Regions from separate parts of the Homo sapiens genome. Here region 1 is linked to region 2. A link means that fine-mapping ties the variant in region 2 to the expression of a gene that starts in the linked region. Tissue or cell type: testis. Region 2 holds a variant in brackets; the other region holds the start of a gene. All regions are shown on one strand. Distances are from middle to middle.

Region 1 (4,162 bases), 260 kb after region 2:
AAGAAAGAAAGAAAGAAAAACAGAAAACAAGTTACAGAACAACAGATGTACCAGGCGTGTGCATGTGTGTGTGTGCGTGTGTGTGTGTGCGTGTGCGTGTGTGTGCATGTGTGTGTGTGCGTGTGTGTGCATGTGCGTGTGTGTGTGCGTGCGTGTGTGTGCATGTGCGTGTGTGTGCGCGCGTGTGCGTGTGTGTGTGGGCGTGCACGCTCTAACATGCAAGAAAGGACTAGAACGGTAGCCCCCGACACGATGAGACAACTGATGGGGGTGGAATTATTGATGATCTGTTTTCCTCTTATGCAATGTTTGACTTTTTGCAATGAGCTTGTATTTTTTAAATTTTGGTGCGTTTTAAGATAGGCACTACATGCTCATGAAACAAAATGTAAAATATAGCAAAGGGGCACAGAAAAAAGTCTGCCTCCCTCCTCCCTGCTCCATCAGCTGTCAGGTGCTGCCCCACAGAGGGGCCACTGTTACCAGTTCCTTACTCCCCTTCCTGAGATACTCAGCCCACTTGCAGACCCGGCATAACTTTTAACATCAGCAGAAATAGGGTATTTCCATTTTTTTAAAAAACCCTATATATCATATGTAATATATAATTATATTGTATATAGATATATGGTCCTGCCTACATTCCAGCGAGTGGCTTCCAATCCTTCCTCTGCCTCCCCTCCCCATAGGCTGACCCCTAATCCCAGGCTTTCTGCACAGGGAGGAGGGACCTGCTGGCATTGAGGGTGCTCTAAGCCTGGCCCTTCCATGGTCCCTCCCTATGTTCTGATAGGAGGCTGGGAAAGCCCCCTCACTGGGACCTCCTCAGTCCCATGGGCCAGGCCCCTCCTGCTGACCACAACCCAGGAGAGAAGGTCCCGCTTCTCTCCCGAGCCTTGTACGGTCAAACCAAGGCAGGCAGCCCAGGTGGGAAGAGCCTGGTGAGCGTGGGACGGGATTGGCCTTGCACCCCAGCATCGCCACTTGGAACTGTGGTCTCTGGGCTGGACGGCCTTCCCAGGACTTCCCCGAGAGACAGGTTAACAAAGGTGCCACTTCACAGAGATGAGTGGACACCATCACGTCGCAGCTGCACCCAAATGGGAGCTGCTGCAGCATGCACTGGGGGCCTCCCCAGAGCCCGTCGCCTCACACCCCACATTCCTGCACCCCGCTCCTCTCACCTGTGCCAGTGTTGACTTTGCCCCCCAGTGACACCTCCTCCCCTCCTCATTGCCTTCCATCCTCACAAAAGCTCTGTAGTGATGCCCATGAAGAAGAAACGGTTATGAGTGCATTTTACAGATGAGGAAAGGGAGACTGAGAAACGTTTAATGCTGTATCTGATCTCACAGTTAGCAGGTGGCATGTCAGGGTTTGAACCCACATGCATCTCTGTCAGCAGCTCATGCCTTTAGCACTCGGCTCTGCTGCCTTCCTTCCAGTCATGGAGTCTGACGGCCCATCAGGGCCTCTCACTCCACGGCCACCTTGGTGTCCCTGCTCCGCGGATCCCTGGGACCTCTGCCTCCTGGTTTGGGGGATGGCAGAGCTGCCAGAGGTCCAGGAGGATGCTCCAGAGATGATGGTCCCAGAGGCAGGGACCCCCTGGAGAGATGATGTAGGACTCTTGACACTTAGGGCCCCGGCTCTGAGTGCAGACTCCACCTAGACAAGAGAAAAAATAAGGAATGCAGGGAAGAGGATTACCTTTGACACAGCCTCTCCCGGTAACTGGGGCTCCTGGAACGGCAAGAGCCAAGAGGGGACGTATTTAAGGACCCTGCTTCCCGTCCATTGAGCCCTTGGAGTTCCTGCCCAGGAAGTTTGCGTGACAAGAAAAAAAAATATTCAAATGTGGGGTGTGGCGTCCTCTGGACCTCTGCTCCCTACAGCCCAGGTTTTGGGGATTAGGTCCCGGGCTGTTTGCTTTTGTTCACTTCTGAAATGCGAGAATGTTTCTGAAGGCTTGGGCAGGGCACATCTCCAATCTTCAAAAGAGCCTATGTTTGCCCTGGGCGTGGGGGCTGCTGATTGATTCAGCCTGGCATGGAGCTCTTCCAGCTTTCCAGACTTGCCGCTGCCAGATGCGGTTCTCTGAGTTCTCTGGTTACATAAGATCGGCAGGGCTCAGCCACGAACCACAGTGAGAGCATGCAGCTCCCCCGAAACGCACCCCCAGCCACCGCTGCCCCGGGCCCTTCACATCCCCCAGTGTGCACAGGGCCCCATTGAGTCAGAGATCCTAACCCTGGGGAGCCACAGGCTGGGGACTTTTGATGGGGGTCTCCAATCCATAAATCTGCTCTCTCGTTGAATAGCTGAGAAGAGGGCCAAGGGTCTGTGTGGTCACCGAAAACCAGAGATGCTTGGGAAGGAAGGAGTCTGGAAAAGCCGTTCCCACGCTGTCTGATCAATGTTCGCTGGGCTCCTGCTCTGCACCACGCTGTGGGGAGGAGGCAGGTGTGGAACAGACTCTCGGCCCCTCTCACCAGGCGCTTCCCGCCACCCTCACCCGCCTGCAGGCAGACTGCTTACCAGCATGGGGTCCCTGCTTCCCATTTCATTCGAGGAAAACACAAGGTTCCGGTCCTGGCCTACGAGTCCTGAGGATGTGCTCTGGCCCTCCTGCTTCTCTCCACCTGGAGCCCCCTTCCCCTACATCCACCCACACGGCTACGCTCCAATGTGCTGTGGAAAATAGCACAATGCTGTCGTCTTCCTCCATTATTTTTTCTCTGGAGCGTTTATATCTTGTTTGCTACCTGTCCCTTAACTCCTGACAGCTAGAATTTGATTTGTTCACTGCTGTAACCTCCATACAGCATTTATAGTAGATGCTCAATAAATATTTATTGACTGACAAAATAAACAGGAAATTTCAAAATAATGTGAACACTGTAGTAACCAGGTAGGCAGAGGATGCTAGAGGGGCTGGGGTGAGAGTCCGTGGGAGGGAACATCATCTGAGCTGAGTGAGAAGCATTTGGGCAAGGAACAGCAAGGGGGCTGGAAGAGCAGAAGCAAAGGCACAGAGGCTGGGAACGTTATGTCACGAAAAAGTGCGATGTGTCCACTGTTGCCAGCAGGAGGTGTGGAGGTGAATGACTCTCCTGGGGCGGGGGCTCACGGAGGCCTGTGGGCCAGGCTGGCTGTGGGGGTGCAGGGCGCTGAGGAGATTATCAGACAGACAAATGTCTGCTATTTTTTGTTTTAGAGAACCCCCTGGACAGGGCACAGTGTGAGAAAGGTCTAGCCCAAAGGCTGCAGCTTCCAGCAATGCAGGCAAGAAATGACGAGACCCCCAAATAAGACTAACAGAATGGGAAACATTCCAGAAACAGCAGAAAGAAGCATCTGCAGGACCTCGCACCTGTGCAGGGGCTGGACTGGGTGGTAGGTGCAAAGTGGGGTGCCTCCTGAGAGGGGAGAAGACCGAGCCTGTGCCAGCCTCTCCCCTTTTCTGGTGGCAGCAGCTGATTATCTTTGCAGGCAACCCCTTCCTACTTGGTGAGATGATCAACCAGGTGCCTTCTCCAGGCCAGCCATGGGTTGGGGTGGGCTCCCCATGAGGCCTCCCTGACTCTCCTGGGAATTTGGATCTTGAGTAGAGGGCAGAATGCAAGGCCGAAGGCCATTCGGAGCTGACTTCTTGTGGCAGCGGCCCTCCCCTGGGAGAACCATGGAAGCAACTAGCAAAAGCCAGCAACACAGCATTGAGTACACGAAGTGACCAGAACAGTGCCTGGCGGGCCGAGGGCATCCTGGAAAGGTTAGGTGGTGTGGGTGTCATCAAAAGTGGCAGCAGTAGTGGTGGAAGCGTCAGAGCAAGGAGCCTAAAAGCAGTTCAAATCTACGAAGAACAAAATCCTTGTTTGCGTGTTTGGGTTTTGGTTATAGTTTCAGTAGTGGCAAAAGTGTGGGAGTGTGGGTTGTGCTAGAAACTTGCAGATACTTGCTTTTCAGATTTTCTTTTTTCTTTTTTTTTTTTTTTTTTTGAGACAGGGTGTTGCTCTGTTGCCCAGGCTGGAGTGCAGTGGTGCCATCACGGCTCACTGCAGCTTTGAATTCCGGTGCTCAAGCGATCCTCCCACCTTGTGACTACAGGAACCCACCACCATGCCTGGCTAATTTTTAAATGTTTTGTAGAGATGGGTCTCAT
Region 2 (4,162 bases):
GGGTTTTGGTATCTACATAGGGCTCAGTCGGCAAGAGTTCAGAATAAGTAGGGCCCTCTAGGTCACTCGGCCTCCTCCAGCAAAGATGTTAATCTGGAGACCGGGAAAGCTGGAAGGGTCTGGAGACTATTCTCATAGTTCACAAAGCTAGCTGCATACTGGAATCACCTGGGAACATTTTTTCTTTTTCTTTCTTTTTTTTTTTTTTTGATGGAGTCTCACTCTGTTGTCCAGGCTGGGGTGCAGTGGCACAATCTCGGCTCACTTCAACCTCCGCCTCCCCAGTTCAAGCGATTCTCGTGTCTCAGCCTCCCGAGGAGCTGGGACTACAGGCGCCTGCCACCATGCCCGGCTAATTTTTTGTATTTTTACTAGAGATGGGGTTTCACCATGTTGGCCAGGCTGGTCTTGAACTCCTGACCTCAGGTAATCCACCTGCCTCTGCCTCCCAAAGTGCTAGGATTACAGGCGTGAGCCACTGCGCTTGGCCGGGAATATTTTTTAAACTATGTCTGGCTCTACCCTCATAAAATTATGAAATGATTTTAATGGTCTGGAGTTGTAGTTGGGATATTCAGTTTTATCTTGTTTTTTGAAACTCCCCAAGTACTTATAACGTACAGGCTGACAAGAACACCTGATTCAATCAGTTCTCTCTGCCCCGACTTTACAGATGCAGAAACCACGACCAAGAGAGAAGAAGAGATTTGTCCAAGAACACATGGTAGGTAGTGGGAGGAGCCAAACCAGAGTCCTAAACCTTGACCCATTTTCCCACCATTCAACACTGCTCCTCGGGCTGAGCAGGGCCTGGTCCTGCAATGAGCTACAAACAGTCCGTGGGATGACAACTGCACAACTTTCATATTACATCAGCACTTAGTCTGTGGAGGTCGCAGGGAATTCTCGGTATAAGGCTAGGCTCAAGGAGTTCCTAGTCAGGAAAAGCTCCCCGGCGTGGGCTTGAGTAAAGGCCAGGTTGGAATTCAAAAGTTGGAGGACAGTAGAACTTCCATTCTGACTGGTGGGCCAGGAGAGAAGGGGTCTCAGCAGGGGTGTATGGAGACGAGTGTGACAGATGCAGGGAGAGTGGTGGGCCGCAGGAAAAGGGAAGCCAGACTGGGAGGGAGAGGCCAGGCAGTGCCATGAAACCCCAGCCAGCAAACCCAGGGCTATGGATGTGTTTGAGACTTGGACCAGAGTCAATGGGGACTTGGAAGCTGCTTGAGCCTGGGAGGCACCTCGCCAGAGGAGAGCTTAGAACATGGCTTCTGGGAGCAGGCATGGTGGTCAGGTAGACCGAAGGCTGAGGCTTAGAGCAAGGAAAAGGCCACAGAGTCGCCCTTGTGTTCTGGGAGGGTGGGGCTAGGAGCCGCTCCAGCACTTGTCAGAGCTGCCGCCAACATTTATTATATTAGAGCCAGGCATGGTGGTAAGTGCTGTAGTCCCAGCTACTCAGGAGGCTGAGGCAGGAGGATCACTTGAGCCCAGGAGTTCAAGGCTTCAGTGAGCTGCGATCTGTGATCATGCCTGTGAGTAGCCACTGCATTCCAGCCTGGACGATATAGATAGCAAGACCACATCTCTAAAAAACAAATATAGAGTTCTGGCCGGGCGCAGTGGCTCATGCCTGTAATCCCAGCACTTTGGGAGGCCGACGTGGGCGGATCACAATGTCAGGAGATCGAGACCATCCTGGCTAACAAGGTGAAACCCCATCTCTACTAAAAACACAAAAAAATTAGCCGGGCGTGGTGGC[G/A]GGCGCCTGTAGTCCCAGCTACTCGGGAGGCTGAGGCAGGAGAATGGCGTGAACCCGGGTGGCGGAGCTTGCAGTGAGCAGAGATCGCGCCACTGCACTCCAGCCTGGGCGACAGAGCGAGACTCCATCTCAAAAAATATATATATAGAGAGAGAGAGAGAGAGAAAGAGAGAGAGAGAAAGAGAGAGAGAGAGAGAGAGAAAGAGAGAGAGAGAGAGTTCTGTTCTGCTCTGGGCTCTGCTCAGCCATGCCGTGGGACAGCCTTGCCTGCCCCTCCCCCTGCCAGCAGGAATCCGTGGCACAGGCACAGGCTACTAATGTGGGTGTTAACAAGAGTGAGCAGCACCAAACCCCTGCTGGGTGAGGGTTGGGGACAGCAGGTGTGACTGATACACTGGGCAATGATGCCTCCCCTCCTGTCTCTGGCCTCTGGGCCTGATGGGCTCCAGCCTAATCCCAGCACTTCCTTTCCGGATGCTTGAAGGGAAAGCCCCACAGCTCTTGGTGTGCTGCAGGCTCTTAGCCCAAATGCTCCCCTCCTGAACCCCCCACGGCTCAACATGGAACAGGGTCTGGCTAAATACTCCACCAGAGTAAGAGACGGAGAAAAATCCCGCCAGGCGAGCAGCACAAATGATGACTGGACAGCAAATGGCACAGGGAGAACAAATCTTAGAATGGATGGATCGAAGCCACCAAATAAGTATGACAAAAGACGAAAGCAGAGCAGGGAGCTGAACGCCCTGCCACACGGGAAAGTCACTGGCAAGAACAGCACTGAATCGTCTTCCATCTCCCAAACTCTTGATGCTTTTCCCTCTCTGTGTGTGTTTTGTCTGCACCCATGTCTGCACTTCCACTCCCCTGAGATTCAAATGAAGCTGGGGAAGAACAATGGGAAACATTTCTGAATAGGGGCTGTCTTGGCCTGTGTTGCTATAAATGAACACCTGAGACTGGATAATTTATAAAGAAAAAAATGTCGGCCGGGCGTGGTGGCTCATGCCTGTAATCCCAGCACTTTGGAAGGCCAAGGTGGGTGGATCACCTAAAGTCAGGAGTTAGAGAACAGCCTGACAAACATGGTGAAACCCCGTCTCTACTAAAAATACAAAAATTAGCTGGGGGTGGTGATGCCTGCCTGTAGTCCCTGATACTTGGGGGGCTGAGGCAGGAGAATTGCTTGAACTCAGGAGGTGGAAGCTGCAGTGAGCCAATATTGCACCACTACACCATGTTGGTCAGGCTGGTCTCAAACTCCTGATCTCGTGATCCACCCGCCTCGGCTTCCCAAAGTGCTAGGATTACGGGTGTGAGCCACCACACCCGGCCTTCCTTGCAGATTCTTTTGGTACATAGCTCCATATTTCTTTCTTTCTTTTTTTTTTTGAGACAGAGTCTTGCTCTGTCGCCCAGGCTAGAGTGCAGTAGTGCGATCTCGGCTCACTGCAAGCTCCGCCTCCCGGGTTGATGCCATTCTCCTGCCTCAGCCCCCCAAGTATCAGGGATTACAGGCAGGAGTAGATGGGACTACAGGCGCCCGCCACCACACCCAGCTAATTTTTTGTATTTTTAGTAGAGACGGGGTTTCACCATGTTGGCCAGGATGGTCTCGATCTCCTGACCTCGTGATCCGCCCGTCTTGGCCTCCCAAAGTGCTAGGATTACAGGCGTGAGCCACTGCGCCCGGTCTCATAGCTCCATATTTCAAAATAGGATGCTGTATTTTGCTCTTTCCTCCATCCCACTCCCCGCCACACATGTGCAACCTTCTCTGCCACTCCATCTTCCTCACAGAGTTTGGCGTGGGTTACCTTTCTGAGACCCAGCAAAGGTTGCTGATCTCCTTCTTTTATGGACACTTCCTTGGGATGTGTCATAGTCCTTGGTTTTCTTCTCATATCGAAGAATGGAAACACAGAGCTAGTTGGAAGGTTTGAATATGTAAAGGTTTCAGCATGCAAATTTCACGTTAGCGTGTTCTGTCGAGGCAGTGTCCTTGAGGACCCAGCCATAATTAGGCTTACGTCACAGGCCGATGCTAGGACATGGTGTAAAGTGAGTTTCCTGTTATCCCCACAGTGGCTGAGGTCACACTTAGTAATTATCCATGTGGGCAGAATATTTTTGTTGTTTAAGCTATACTCTTTTTTTTTTTTTTTGAGACAGAGTTTCTCTCTTGTTGCCCAGGCTGGAGTGCAATGGTGCAATCTCGGCTCACCACAACCTCCACCTCCCAGGTTCAAGCGATTCTCCTGCCTCAGCCTCCTGAGTAGCTGGGATTACAGGCACGTACCACCACGCCTGGCTAATTTTGTATTTTTAGTAGAGACGGGGTTTCTCCATGTTGAGGCTGGTCTTGAACTCCTGACCTCAGGTGATCCACCTGCCTCAGCCTCCCAA

Alleles and levels. Alleles are on the strand shown, and positions count from the first base shown. SD is a standard deviation of normalised expression in the study named.
As copies of A replace G in region 2, the expression in testis of the gene that starts at base 1,750 in region 1 goes up (large effect, 0.93 SD a copy in GTEx).

Evidence for each region. PIP is the estimated chance that this variant, and not a neighbour inherited with it, causes the effect.
Region 1: ALDH3A1 starts here. The variant in region 2 is the best candidate, but not a certain one, in a credible set for the expression of ALDH3A1 in testis (GTEx, PIP 0.85).

Annotation. Positions count from the first base shown.
Region 1 is chr17:19,746,549-19,750,710 of GRCh38, forward strand. ALDH3A1 (aldehyde dehydrogenase 3 family member A1) reads right to left here and starts at 1,750. Exons shown (of 11, transcript NM_000691.5): 1 at 1,711-1,750. RefSeq lists an enhancer at 3,707-3,986.
Region 2 is chr17:19,487,450-19,491,611 of GRCh38, forward strand. No RefSeq gene overlaps it. Among named protein-coding and RNA genes, the nearest start is that of TRW-CCA2-1, 19 kb to the right of the region's middle. The variant G/A (reference allele first, on the strand shown) is at 1,760.